2 linked regions of the Homo sapiens genome follow. The protein of the gene in region 2 interacts with the protein of the main gene of each other region in a biochemical or structural test. Each region holds a gene or a part of one and is shown on either strand. Other genes may lie near its edges.

Region 1 (7,611 bases), on a different chromosome or scaffold from region 2:
TTTAGATTATGAGACATCTATATAATGTTAAATGGCTAGCTATCCTTTTTTTAAAATTTGCCTTTTAATGTTTACATGATTAAATGTATGAGGTGCAAAATTGTAACATACAGATGAATAGGTCACACATATAAAAAGAGATGCTATCTGGATCATTCTCTAATTCTAAGGGAATGGTTGAGGAGAAATAACAGGAAATCTAAGTATACAAGTATGAAGCAATTTTAATGTACTGAAAGCAAGTTATATAAAATAAAGTGTTTTTGGAGATTAATTTTGGTTACATGCATTTTAAAGATTATGTTGTCAGATAAAGCCAATAAGGAATAATCAAATTATTTGAAAAGTATTACCTTAAACAAAAAATTCTTACTGATTCCATTTTAAAGATTTATAACATAAGTACAAGTTTCCCAACTAAGAAAAAAAGAGAAGTGATTCCTTCCTCCAGAGTACCTTATAATGCCTGAATAAGCAATCCAAATAAATATTTTAAATTTTCAGAAATTACCCTGAAAAATACAAATAATGCTGATATCCAAATATTCAGAAATCACTGCATAGATTGGAATAAACATACTGGTACTTAAAATTGGTTAATAAATCATCACTGGAGTAACTAAAATATTTTAGACATTATAGGAACATACATTGATATTTTCAAAGATGTTAGTATCTCAGAGACACTTTGCATAAATAAGTATTGCTAGTTACTGGACATAATAAAGTAGAATTATTCTAAAAGCTTTCCAAGGATAAAACTGTGTTAGTATACTGGTAGTAAAATGTATAATTAATAAAGATGCTGCAGCTATATTTTCCCACAGTGAAATCCTTGCACAAGAGAAGTATCTGTAATCCTGGTCTACAGAAATTATTTAAGATGTGCTATTACACTAAGAAATAGAAATAAAATTACCTCTGTCAAATTGTACCATAATGACATTAATTTGATATTATAATATCTATCTCTCTTAAGAATTAGACATTGTCTGTAGTTTTGGTATGAGAAGGTTCAGTAAGAAAGATATTAAAATATAATTTGACCAGCAGAACTCCACTATGAGCTGAAAATTTAGATGATTTATAAACATTAATGGAATGGTGGCTGTCTCATTATGCTTATTTAGTAAGGGAAACAATTAAAATATGTACCTAGTACAACGATGACTTTTGGGAGTAAAGAAATTCACATTAGCTGTTCAGATAGCTAGATACATCAGCATATTTCACAATATATTTTATTTCCCTGGTGCTTATGTATATATGGATATTATTGAACTTTATAATTCATTATCTCCATACAAAGAAGTAAACAAAACAAAGATACTTAACTAGTAAGACACGGCTGCTAAATGCATACGCACCTTTTTTTTTTAAACAAGTTTATACAGCCTGTTCTTGTTAAATATTTTAGCGAGAACTAAGTTTTAAAGCTTGATAATTATAGTTATCCATTCTGAAATGACATTTCTCGTGATTTTACTCCTTGTCACTTATATGTATTTAAGCTGGCCTACCTATCTTTGAACAGTATAGGCAAAGAAAAAGGAATATGGTATTAGAATTCACCTTCACTTGATGGAGAACCGGATGTGGTTATCTGGGTAAGAGCCCAGGTTACTTGGATGGAGAGATGGGTTTGCTGGTTTACACTAGGAAGAGTGACGTATTTACCTCGATTCTACTGAAAGCGGATAAAAGCAGTACCATCACTGTGACCTAGGAAAAGGGAAAATGTAAGCCCACTAATATGGAAGCCCATTCAGAAACATTTTCTGTGAACGATAGGAGGACCAGCCTCATCATATTCCTGCTTACTGATCCACATCTGCTGGAATGTGGACAGGCTGGCAAGGATGGAGCCCCCAATCCAAACAGAATACTTCCGCTCTGGGGGAGCTATGATCTTGATTTTCATGGTGCTGGGTGCCAGGGTTATGATTTCTTTCTGCATCCTGTCAGCAATGCCTGGGTACATGGTGCTCCCTCCAGATAACACGGTGTTGGCATAGAGATCCTTGCGAATATCCACATCGCACTTCATGATAGAGTTGAAGGTTGTCTCATGGATCCCACTGGACTCAATGCCCAGAAAGGAAGGCTGGAAAATGGCTTCAGGGCATCGGAAGCGTTCATTCCCAATGGTGATCACCTGCCCATCAGGAAGTTCATAGCTCCGTTCCGGTGAGGAGGATGCGGCTGCCCTGACCATCTCCTGCTCAAAGTCCAGGGCTACGTAGCACAGCTTCTCTTTGACATCTCGCACAATCTCCCGCTCAGCAGTGGTGGTGAAGTTATAGCCTCGCTCTGTCAGGATCTTCATGAGGTAATCAGTCAGGTCTCTCCCTGCCAGATCCAGGCGTAGAATGGCATGAGGCAGGGCATAACCTTCATAGATGGGCACGATGTGAGTGACCCCATCCCCAGAATCCATCACGATGCCTGTGGTCCGTCCTGAGGCATAGAGGGACAGCACAGCCTGGATGGCGACATACATGGCTGGTGTGTTGAAAGCCTCGAACATGATCTGAGTCATCTTTTCCCGGTTGATCTTGGGGTTCAGGGGTGCCTCGGTGAGGAGGATGGGATGCTCATCTGGTGCCACACGGAGCTCATTGTAGAATGTGTGGTACCAGATCTTTTCCATATCGTCCCAGTTGGTGACCACTCCATGCTCGATAGGATACTTCAGGGTCAGGACGCCTCTCTTGCTCTGAGCCTCATCTCCCACGTAGCAGTCCTTCTGGCCCATGCCTACCATAACGCCCTGGTGTCGAGGACGCCCTATCATGGAGGGGAACACAGCCCGGGGGGCATCGTCACCACCAAAGCCTGCCTTGCACATCCCTGACCCATTATCCACTACCAAGGCAGACAGCTCATTGTCAGTCATGGTGCTGGCTGAGATCTTCCAGACGAGTGAACAGGACAAGTGAATAGACAGTGAGTAAGAGAAAGTGAACAGGCCTAAAACACTCCAGAAATGCTTTCAGACACGGGAGGCTGCACCGGGACCACAGGTATTTAAAGGAACACACTGACTCCGCCCATGTCCTACTCCACCAGTTCCCAGCATTTCTGGATGAGGTCATCTCTGAGGTATTAATGATGGTGATGATTACATAAACAATTAGATCTTTCTACATAAAGAGAAAATTGGCTGCCAAGTGGTCAAATCTCAGGTTCCTGTAATTAGGCAACCCACACATGACCGTCAGCCTGCCTGGTGAGGTCTCTAGATAACTATGATGATGCAGTGGGGGATATAAAAGCAAGATGAAAGAAAGCTGGTGCTAGGTATGGCAACACTGCTGGGAGGAAGGCTCCCTCCTTAGCGTCCCTGAGGATTCACTTTTCCTACACTAGCTTACCTTTTCATTCTTAAGATACTGTTCTGATGAGGGGTCTTACCCTGCAATCTTCACTTTTTCAAGATTTTTGTTTCCATTAGATTCCTAATCCCACAGGGTGTCATCATCGTAGAGACTGTTTTAGTAAATGAAAATAATAAATGGCTAAGGATGGCCTGATGGCTGTAATTACAATGCACTTGTGTCAAGCAAAATGTAGAGATATTTAATAGACTTCTAATCCATCAGAGATCAAGCGAAAGGAATAGAATGATTGCTAAAGTTAACCCATATAGATACTTTTTTCTGATATAAATTTCTAACAACCAAATTTCATTAAACATTTACTGTGTCTAGACATTGTTCATAGAACCAGGTTCATTGGGTCCATGTTAATTGTATAATGACTGAATGTCAACTATTTTGCATGATTTATTAAGATGCAGGTTATAAAAATTTATTTATTTGCAACAACTCTTGAGTTCTGCAACAATGGACAAAATGAAGTGATAAGACAAATTTGAAAAATTATATATTTAAACTAATCCTTAAAACATTTTGATCTTCAAGATACATATACTATATTATAACATTAAACCTCTATGTAGTTATTAAAATCTATACAATTAGAATTATACTAGCTTTCCTTCCATTTCAAGATATATTACACCCTGATCACTTCATAGCAACAATTTGTTTGGGTTCCATGTTTCATATAGAAATACAGACTACCTGAAAAGATGTGTATGATGGTAAAATGTAGGACATCAGCAATGTGTTACAGAGAAATAGCATTTAAGAAAGCTCATTACTTCTGCTCCCCTATGTGTTAGGCGAATAGAATATAATTATCTTTGTGAGCTCTTGTAAAGCAAAGAAATTTTCCATGTCTACATCTGAGTTCTCCAAAATAATCTTTATTTGGGTTCATCATTCATTCATTTACCCAATAAAGCTTGCTTTGTAAGAGGTAGCACAGCCCCTATTTACTGGACAAAAAACACCCTCCAGCTCAAGGCCAGGAGAACTAACCTGAGTCTTTGCCCAGTGAGCCTCTTGGAGAGTCATGGTGTAGCATCAAGCTGTGAGCATCCAGCCCTCTTCTTTGTCTATAGCTTGATATAGATTTATTTTATCCAGTGCTGTAATATGCCTTCAAAACCTTTCTGGTGACAATCAGTCATGGCAGAATGTATGTTTCATCACAAGATCCATGGTTTTGCTTTAGGGCTCACCAAAACAGTCCTTTCCTTTAATCTTTTCTGTAACTGCAAAATTCCTTCTTCAACAGTGTTAAAAACCTTCACACTGAATGGTTTTATGAACTTCCTTGTTATGTAGTACAACCAAGCTTTTGATTAAAACAACATTTTATTGCTATAGGATGGTGCTTCTGGGAATTTTTTAAAATCCCATAACAAACTACATGCACATTTTACAAAATGGAAAAAATGAAATACACATTGTATTTAGCACAAGTCCCCATTTATGAATGCTCCGGTCTGGAATATAAAACAAAGCCAAGTTGGTGGAAATGTTAGTGGAGGAGCCCACATAGTACCAAGTGCAGCCTTAGATCCTACACTTACTAGAGTGCTGTCCTTAGAATCACCTTCAACTAAGGGATATTTGGTACTGAGTCCACACAGCATAACTGATGCCTTGAGAGTGTGGCTGATGTGTGATTTTGCTAGAGACTGTCTAGCCTGCTTTAATTCCGGTGTCCCAGGAGCAAATTTCATCAGTTATGTATTCTTAAAATAAGCTTATGCTCTTCTAATTAACTCTCAATAATGCAAGAGGTGCTTATCACAATTCAACAGCCATTAAAAATGTCATCTGTTGAGTTGGTTAAATTTTTAAAAAGTAGTAAGAATTTGTGTTGAGTAAAACATAGAAAGATGGGTTTACAAATACTGGGCTCTGGAAGCTGTGAGTAGGGAGTACTGTTCTTGGAGGTAACAGACTTTGTAACTGACCAGAATTTACAAATGTTTAATTAATTACCTAAACCTTTAGGGCCCTTCAAGGTTCACTCATGGAAGCCCAGAATATTCTTTTTCTTTTACATTTTGCCTAGTTTGACTATCATGCAGATACACGAAACTAGAGTGAGGTTTAAGTATGGGCATTAAATATGAAGACAACTGGTGGAAGCTACCGTGTCTCCTTGCCTTGTCTTTGTCAACCTTAGACTTTTCAAGCAATCCGCAAACATTTATTAAACATCTCCTATGTTCTGGGCACTGGTGATATATCAATGAATAAAACACAGCCCTATTTTTAAAGAGTTCACTGTCTTGTGGGTGAAAGTCACCTTACCCCAGGCCGACAGGTGGCCGTTTGGCACTGGTATGATACAGCCGGCTTATGTTCTGATAGGGCTCTGCCAGCGCTGTTCCAGTTGTTAAAGATCTTGAATGTCACTCCCAAATACACAGATAACAGGTATACAACACGGGAGATGAGAGAAGGAGCTCAGGGAGACATAGAGGTGGAATGAGGGGCCCCTGAACCTGAGGTCAGGGCAAAGAGAAGGAGAGGCCAAAGGAGATGACCCCTGGGCTGAGTCTCAGAGGATGGGCAGGAGGCTGTCACTGGCCAGTGGAGGTAATATTGCAGGCATGAGCATCACAGCTTGGATGAAACCAGAGAATCAATTATGTGTTTGGAACTAGGAGGCTGCCAGCAGCCAACGGAGGCAGTATTACAGCAGCACCAACAACTTGGATGAAATCAGAGAATCAACTATGTATTTGGAACTAGGTCTCTACACAGAATCAGCAAGAGTTTAGAGGCTTACAACAAGAGTCTGAATCTTCACAGGCATGTGGAAGGAAGAGGAACTCCAGAATTGGGTGTTGCTTTCTCTCCGTAGTACATGAGATCTAAGAAGAGGCTCTTACCCATGGGTCATGGAGGCCCTGTCTTAGTGATCATCTCCTGTCTAGGCTCTCATCTGTTTAACTGAACTGCTGAGATTATGCATTTTAATGAGGCCTCGTTCAGCCTCCCCCCTAGGGATGCAATTTAGTACATGGAGGTCAGCTGCCTGCCTCTCTGTCTTCACTTGGTTCCTTCCTTGTGTACCACACCCTCTTTCCTTCTATCCTTGGCTGATTTTGCACACGTCTACCTCTCTAGTGTGGTGATGCTCTGAGAATCTCTTTCAACTGTACTCTGCTCTTAGTGGAGATTTGTAATGTGTTTCAGAAATAGATACATGAATGTTGTAAGCAGTGTGATTTGTTTTCATTATATACTCATCTGTTCATTCATAGCTAGATATAGCTGACCACTTCTTAAAAGTTAAAAAGCTTATTTATTTTGTGGTTAAATACTGCCTAAGGTTTATATTTCATATTGATGAAATGGCTTAAACATGGTATCTTACGATACCAAATAATCTCTCTGGAGATTATTTGCAGTTTGTAAGATACCATGTTTATCTCTCTGGAAAAGAGAGATAAAATGGTAAAGATAATTACCGTTACTTCTCTCTGGAGAAGTCTCAACATATGGCTTTAATATTTCTTACAAATAGTAAATCCACCAATAATAATTACTGATAGAGCTTATTGTGATTTTCTGTTTGTTTGAATATATAGAACTATGTAAAAAATGGCATGAAAAATCAGAAATACAACAAACACTTCCTCAAGTAAAACCTGACTCACCTATTTCCTGAGGCAGGCATGGGCAGAAAGGAGGAAAAAGTGGCTTTGGTGAGGTACGTCTTGACCAGTTCCAGGATGCATTTGGAAGGAAAATATTAGCATAAGAATCTTTTCATTGGTGCAGTTGACCACAGCTCCCAGCCCCTATCTGGTGTGAGCCCACTGTCTGTGAACAAAACCAGCTTTCACTCCACAGGGCAATAGCGCTCCCCCCGATGGATAAAGGGCCTAACGTAGATTTTATGGCACTTCTTCCTAACTAACTTTTAAAATATGCCATAGATCAGCTTTTGGCTATTTCAATTGACCTGTAAACAAAGTTGTTAAGAGGAAGAACAGATTCCTGTGTGTGGTGGATGAACCTTTGGAAATGCCTTGATTCTAAGGAAAGGGGAGAAGAAACAGTTGTAAAATCGGAAGCATCAATATTCACAGTTCAGCCGTTACTGATGGGAACCATATATCATCCAACACAGATAAGCATCATGTTGTGTTCTGATCCTGAAAGGTGAAGGGGATAACAATAAAAATAGTGATTACGGATCATGTAGTATGTGCCAGTCTCTACGCTAAATCCCTTA
Region 2 (4,830 bases):
GATGGCTACTGTGCCTTGTGTTACTTAATCATACAGTAAGCTGACCTGGAAATGAATGAAACTATTACTCCTAAGAATTACATTGTATAGCCCCACAGATTAAATTTAATTAATTAATTCAAAACATGTTAAACGTTACTTTCATGTACTATGGAAAAGTACAAGTAGGTTTACATTACTGATTTCCAGAAGTAAGTAGTTTCCCCTTTCCTAGTCTTCTGTGTATGTGATGTTGTTAATTTCTTTTATTGCATTATAAAATAAAAGGATTATGTATTTTTAACTAAGGTGAGACATTGATATATCCTTTTGCTACAAGCTATAGCTAATGTGCTGAGCTTGTGCCTTGGTGATTGATTGATTGATTGACTGATTGTTTTAACTGATTACTGTAGATCAACCTGATGATTTGTTTGTTTGAAATTGGCAGGAAAAATGCAGCTTTCAAATCATTGGGGGGAGAAAAAGGATGTCTTTCAGGATTATTTTAATTAATTTTTTTCATAATTGAGACAGAACTGTTTGTTATGTACCATAATGCTAAATAAAACTGTGGCACTTTTCACCATAATTTAATTTAGTGGAAAAAGAAGACAATGCTTTCCATATTGTGATAAGGTAACATGGGGTTTTTCTGGGCCAGCCTTTAGAACACTGTTAGGGTACATACGCTACCTTGATGAAAGGGACCTTCGTGCAACTGTAGTCATCTTAAAGGCTTCTCATCCACTGTGCTTCTTAATGTGTAATTAAAGTGAGGAGAAATTAAATACTCTGAGGGCGTTTTATATAATAAATTCGTGAAGAAATGTGTGCTCTTCAGTTCTCAAGTTTTATTATTATGGTATTTATTAAAGTTCTACAATTGTAATAACGTATCCATATGACAAGTTTTAAAGTGGTAATTGAAATAGGTTATCAGATATAGAGTTGTTCACATCAAGTAGACTTTTAACAGAGTCAGAATGAACCTACCCTTAAAATTTTAGAGAAAAAAAATCGTCGGTTGCACAGAATAGCTGCTCTAGCTTGCTTAATTATGCCGGGCATGTTGTCACTCCTCTTACTTTTGCTGCCTTTTCATTACTATTTAATGGAATGTCCCTGAACAATAAGGAAGAGCAAAACATAGACATTTTGACTACAGTGGATACTTCCTCTACCCCAAATGTTATGTTATAAAAGTACTTTTTTTGCCCAGGTACTCTATTATATATTTTGGTTTTCTTTGAATTAGACCTCAATCTCCAGGAAGCTCTGGAGGGAAAAAAAGGAACCATAAACTAAAGTAACTGGTTTTCCAAATAAATGTAAACTTTTTTAACCTTTTATTATTATAGAACATTTCAAACATACATAAAACATGAAAACAGCCTGCAGCCAAACTTTTCTGGACCTTGGCAGCTCCAGCAAATGAGCTGGTCATCCTAACCCTGGTTTCCTGAGACAACTACTTTTGGGGATGCTTGCTTGTATAGGGAGATGATAGATAGATAGATACATATCAAAAAGAAACTTGAAAAAGGCTTCGAACAGAACTTGCCGATGTTACTCATCCCTCCTCGGTACAGACATTCTGTTAGAACAGATGGTTGTAATGGGGCAGCATCACTCCCTATTCCCATTAAAAACATGACCATTCTGAGATTTCAGGCCCCTTCGAGGAATTTTTCTCAAGAATTCCATACAAACTGTCAGAGGAAGAAATGTCGTCCCAAGACTAGTCCCTGTGTAGTCTTGATCCCTTTACCTGCTTACTGTAATTTTTTTTCTCTGACTTTCCGCCAGTGTCTAAGGGCCATCTGTACCCCTCCCACCCTTCCATGAGCCACTGTATAATCCAAAAACACACCTTCCATTTGCTCCCTCACTTGTCTCCTTTTACCTCAACAGTGTTAGTGTGTAAAGAATTGCCTGGGGAGGGTAGAGGGTTTTACAAGTACAGAGTCCCAAGTCTTTTCTCCCCTCCCCGTTAGTGGGTTGGCATTTATTAATAGGCACTGCAAGATTTTGATGCAGGTGTGGGGTAGATATCACTGTGAAAGGCTACTAATGCATGGTAGTTTCACCGAAAGTACAGTCTTCAAGGATCCTTATAATCTCCTCATTGCCAAAATCAGTAACATCTATAACCTTGACAACACCCTAGCTTGGGCTGTTGCTTCTCTGGCTACTTGTTTTTCCATCCCAGTTTACCCAGATTTTAGATGGATACTCCTCCAATTCTGCTTAAAGTCCTTACCTGTTCTTGCCCAGTTCCCTCTAGTCAACCTCAGTCACTCCCAAAGATTCTTCCCCAATCCCATATCTTTTGCTCAGACCTCTGTCTCTGGGATTTCTTTGTTACCTCATAGTCAGTAGTCCTAAAAACAAAATTCTTCATCTTGCATCTCTATCGACCGACCATTCTTTGTTTCTTTTTAAGAAATGTAACCTTCACCCCAATCATCAAAATCTCTCATTCCTCAATTGTCACAGGTTGTCACTTCTTTCCCCCTAAACCTCTCCCATCATTCCTTCCTTCTTTATACTGCCCTTACAGGTCCTGATCCTCTGACTCACCCGGACATTCTTAGCAGCTGCCTAATTTCACTCCCTGACTCTCATCTCCCTCTTCCAATCCTTTTCATTGTGCTAGAACACTATCTTGCTAATTTTAATATCCTCTGCATTCAGTGCCTCCACAGATTGCCCCCTCACTGACCTTTCCAATTTGGCCTTGTGTTACACACTTTCCTCGCTGCATTCCTACCCAGCATCTTCACTTGTCATATTTCTCAAATACTCTTCATGACCAGATATTTAAAGTACCTCATCCATGAAGACTTCATCAACCCCCAAAGTGCCTCCAATGCTTCCGTGGTAGCACAGCATAATGGGGTACATTTCTTAGTTGAACAGTGAGGAGTCACTGGGATTCTTACAGAGTGTCTTAGGGTCTCCTCTTGATACTCTTTCCACATTTCAGTTAAGGAATTTTCTTACATCTTTTTTTCTTCTAATAACCTTTGCCTGGAGTGTAAGTAAATTCATGATAGAGACTGTCATTTTTAAAAAAAAAAACAAACCATTTTGCCTTTCACATGTTATTACCTCCATCTTTCTGTTATCTTGTCAGTGTTGCCACCTAAATGATTGAAAATGACCGAGCATGCAGTAGAATGTAGTGAAGTTTCCTATTTCATCCATTTTTTGCATAAGTGCATTGGTATCTGTATATCCATCTGCCCAAGCACCAGTTGTTGAAAAGACTATTATTTCCCCATGAATGGTCCTGGTACCCTTGTCAAAGAACAGTTGACCATAAATATAAGACTTTCTGGATTCTCAGTCTTACTCCATTGCCCTATATGTCTGTCGTTATACCAGCACCGCACTGTCTTGATGGCTGTAGCTTGGTAGTAAGTTTAGATTTGGGATGTGCAAGTCCTCCATTTTTTTTTTTTTTTTCCCCAAAATCATTTTGTCTGTTTTGGGTCCCTTGCATTGCATATGAATTTTTATATGATCATTGTGTCAATTCCTGCAAAACAGCTGGGATCTTGATAGGGATTTAGTTGAATTGGTAGATAAATTTGAGAAATAACTGCTATTTTAATGGTGTTAGGTTTTCTGTTCCATGACTGTGGGATGTCTTTGCATTTGCTTAGGTCTTTATTTCAGTGATGTTTTAGAGATTTCAGTGTGCAAGTCTTGACGTCTTTAATTTTTTTCTAAGTATTTTACTGATGCCACTTTAATTATATGATTATTTTCTAATTTTTATTTTTGTATTCATCACTGGTGTTAGAAATAAAATTAATTTTTGTATATTGATTTTGTATATTGTAGCTTTTCTAAAATTCTTTTTTTGTCACTTAGTATTTTTTGCATATGAGATCATGCATCTGTGAACAGAAATACTTTTACTTCTTCCTTTCCAGTCTAGATTCCTATTATTTCATTTTCTTGCCTTAGTGTGCTGGCTAGCACCTCCAGTACAATATTGGATAGAAGTGACAAGAGCAGACATCTTTTTCTTGTTCCTGATTTTAAGGGGAAAGCATTCAGTCTTTCACCATTGAGTATGATGTTAGCTAGCTGTGGGTTTGCTTCAAGTTGAGGAAATTCTTTTATTAAACCTAGTTTACTGAGTGTTTTTTAATCAAAAAAAAAAAAAGGAGGGGCTGTGGGTTTTGTTAAATGCTTCTTCTGTATCAAGATTTTCATGTTGTTTTGTCCTTTATTAATATGTTGTATTAATGGACTTTTGTATATTGAATTAACTTTGCATTCCTGGGATAATCTCAGTTGTCCATGCTACATAAACCTTGTTCTATGCTGCTGGATTTGGTTTGCTAGTATTTTGTTTAGAATGTTTGCATCTATATTCATAAGGAATATTGGTCTGTAGTTTTCATATTATATATCTGTCCAGTTTGGGGATGAGAGTCATACTCCTGACAGAATGAATTGGGAGCTTTCCCTGTTCTTAAACCTACTGAGGTATTTTTTAAGTGAACTACTTGGAGACCTTCACCTGTGATCTTCAGATGCTGGGGGACACAGGGATGGTACCTGACTCTGAAAAGGCTCTCAGGGTAAGACGTGTCTGAACTGGCCTGTGGCAGTTAACTAAAGAGTACTCCTACCAATAATGGAGTCAAGATGTATGTTTCCCATAGGCCACGCTGGTCACTGAAAGAGATGGGCTATGAGCCATCTTGAAAACTACCCTGCACAAATGGACTGCCGGCCTGGAGCCAGGCACCCTGCAGCTGAGTGCCATATAATGTTGAAGCTGTTGAGGGAGGAGAGGTTGGAAGCTGCCAGCTTAGAGAATCTCAGCTG

What was found.
Region 1: the proteins of UBE3A (region 2) and ACTBL2 form a complex in vitro, tested with the Homo sapiens proteins (2 studies listed by BioGRID).

What each region holds. Positions count from the first base shown.
Region 1 is NC_000005.10:57,479,812-57,487,422, forward strand, and holds ACTBL2 (beta-actin-like protein 2), read right to left. Parts: upstream 3,001-7,611; 5' UTR 2,897-3,000; coding exon 1,766-2,896; 3' UTR 207-1,765; downstream 1-206. UniProt on the Homo sapiens protein: Actins are highly conserved proteins that are involved in various types of cell motility and are ubiquitously expressed in all eukaryotic cells.
Region 2 is NC_000015.10:25,333,226-25,338,055, reverse strand, and holds the end of UBE3A (ubiquitin-protein ligase E3A), read left to right. Parts: 3' UTR 1-4,328; downstream 4,329-4,830. UniProt on the Homo sapiens protein: E3 ubiquitin-protein ligase which accepts ubiquitin from an E2 ubiquitin-conjugating enzyme in the form of a thioester and transfers it to its substrates.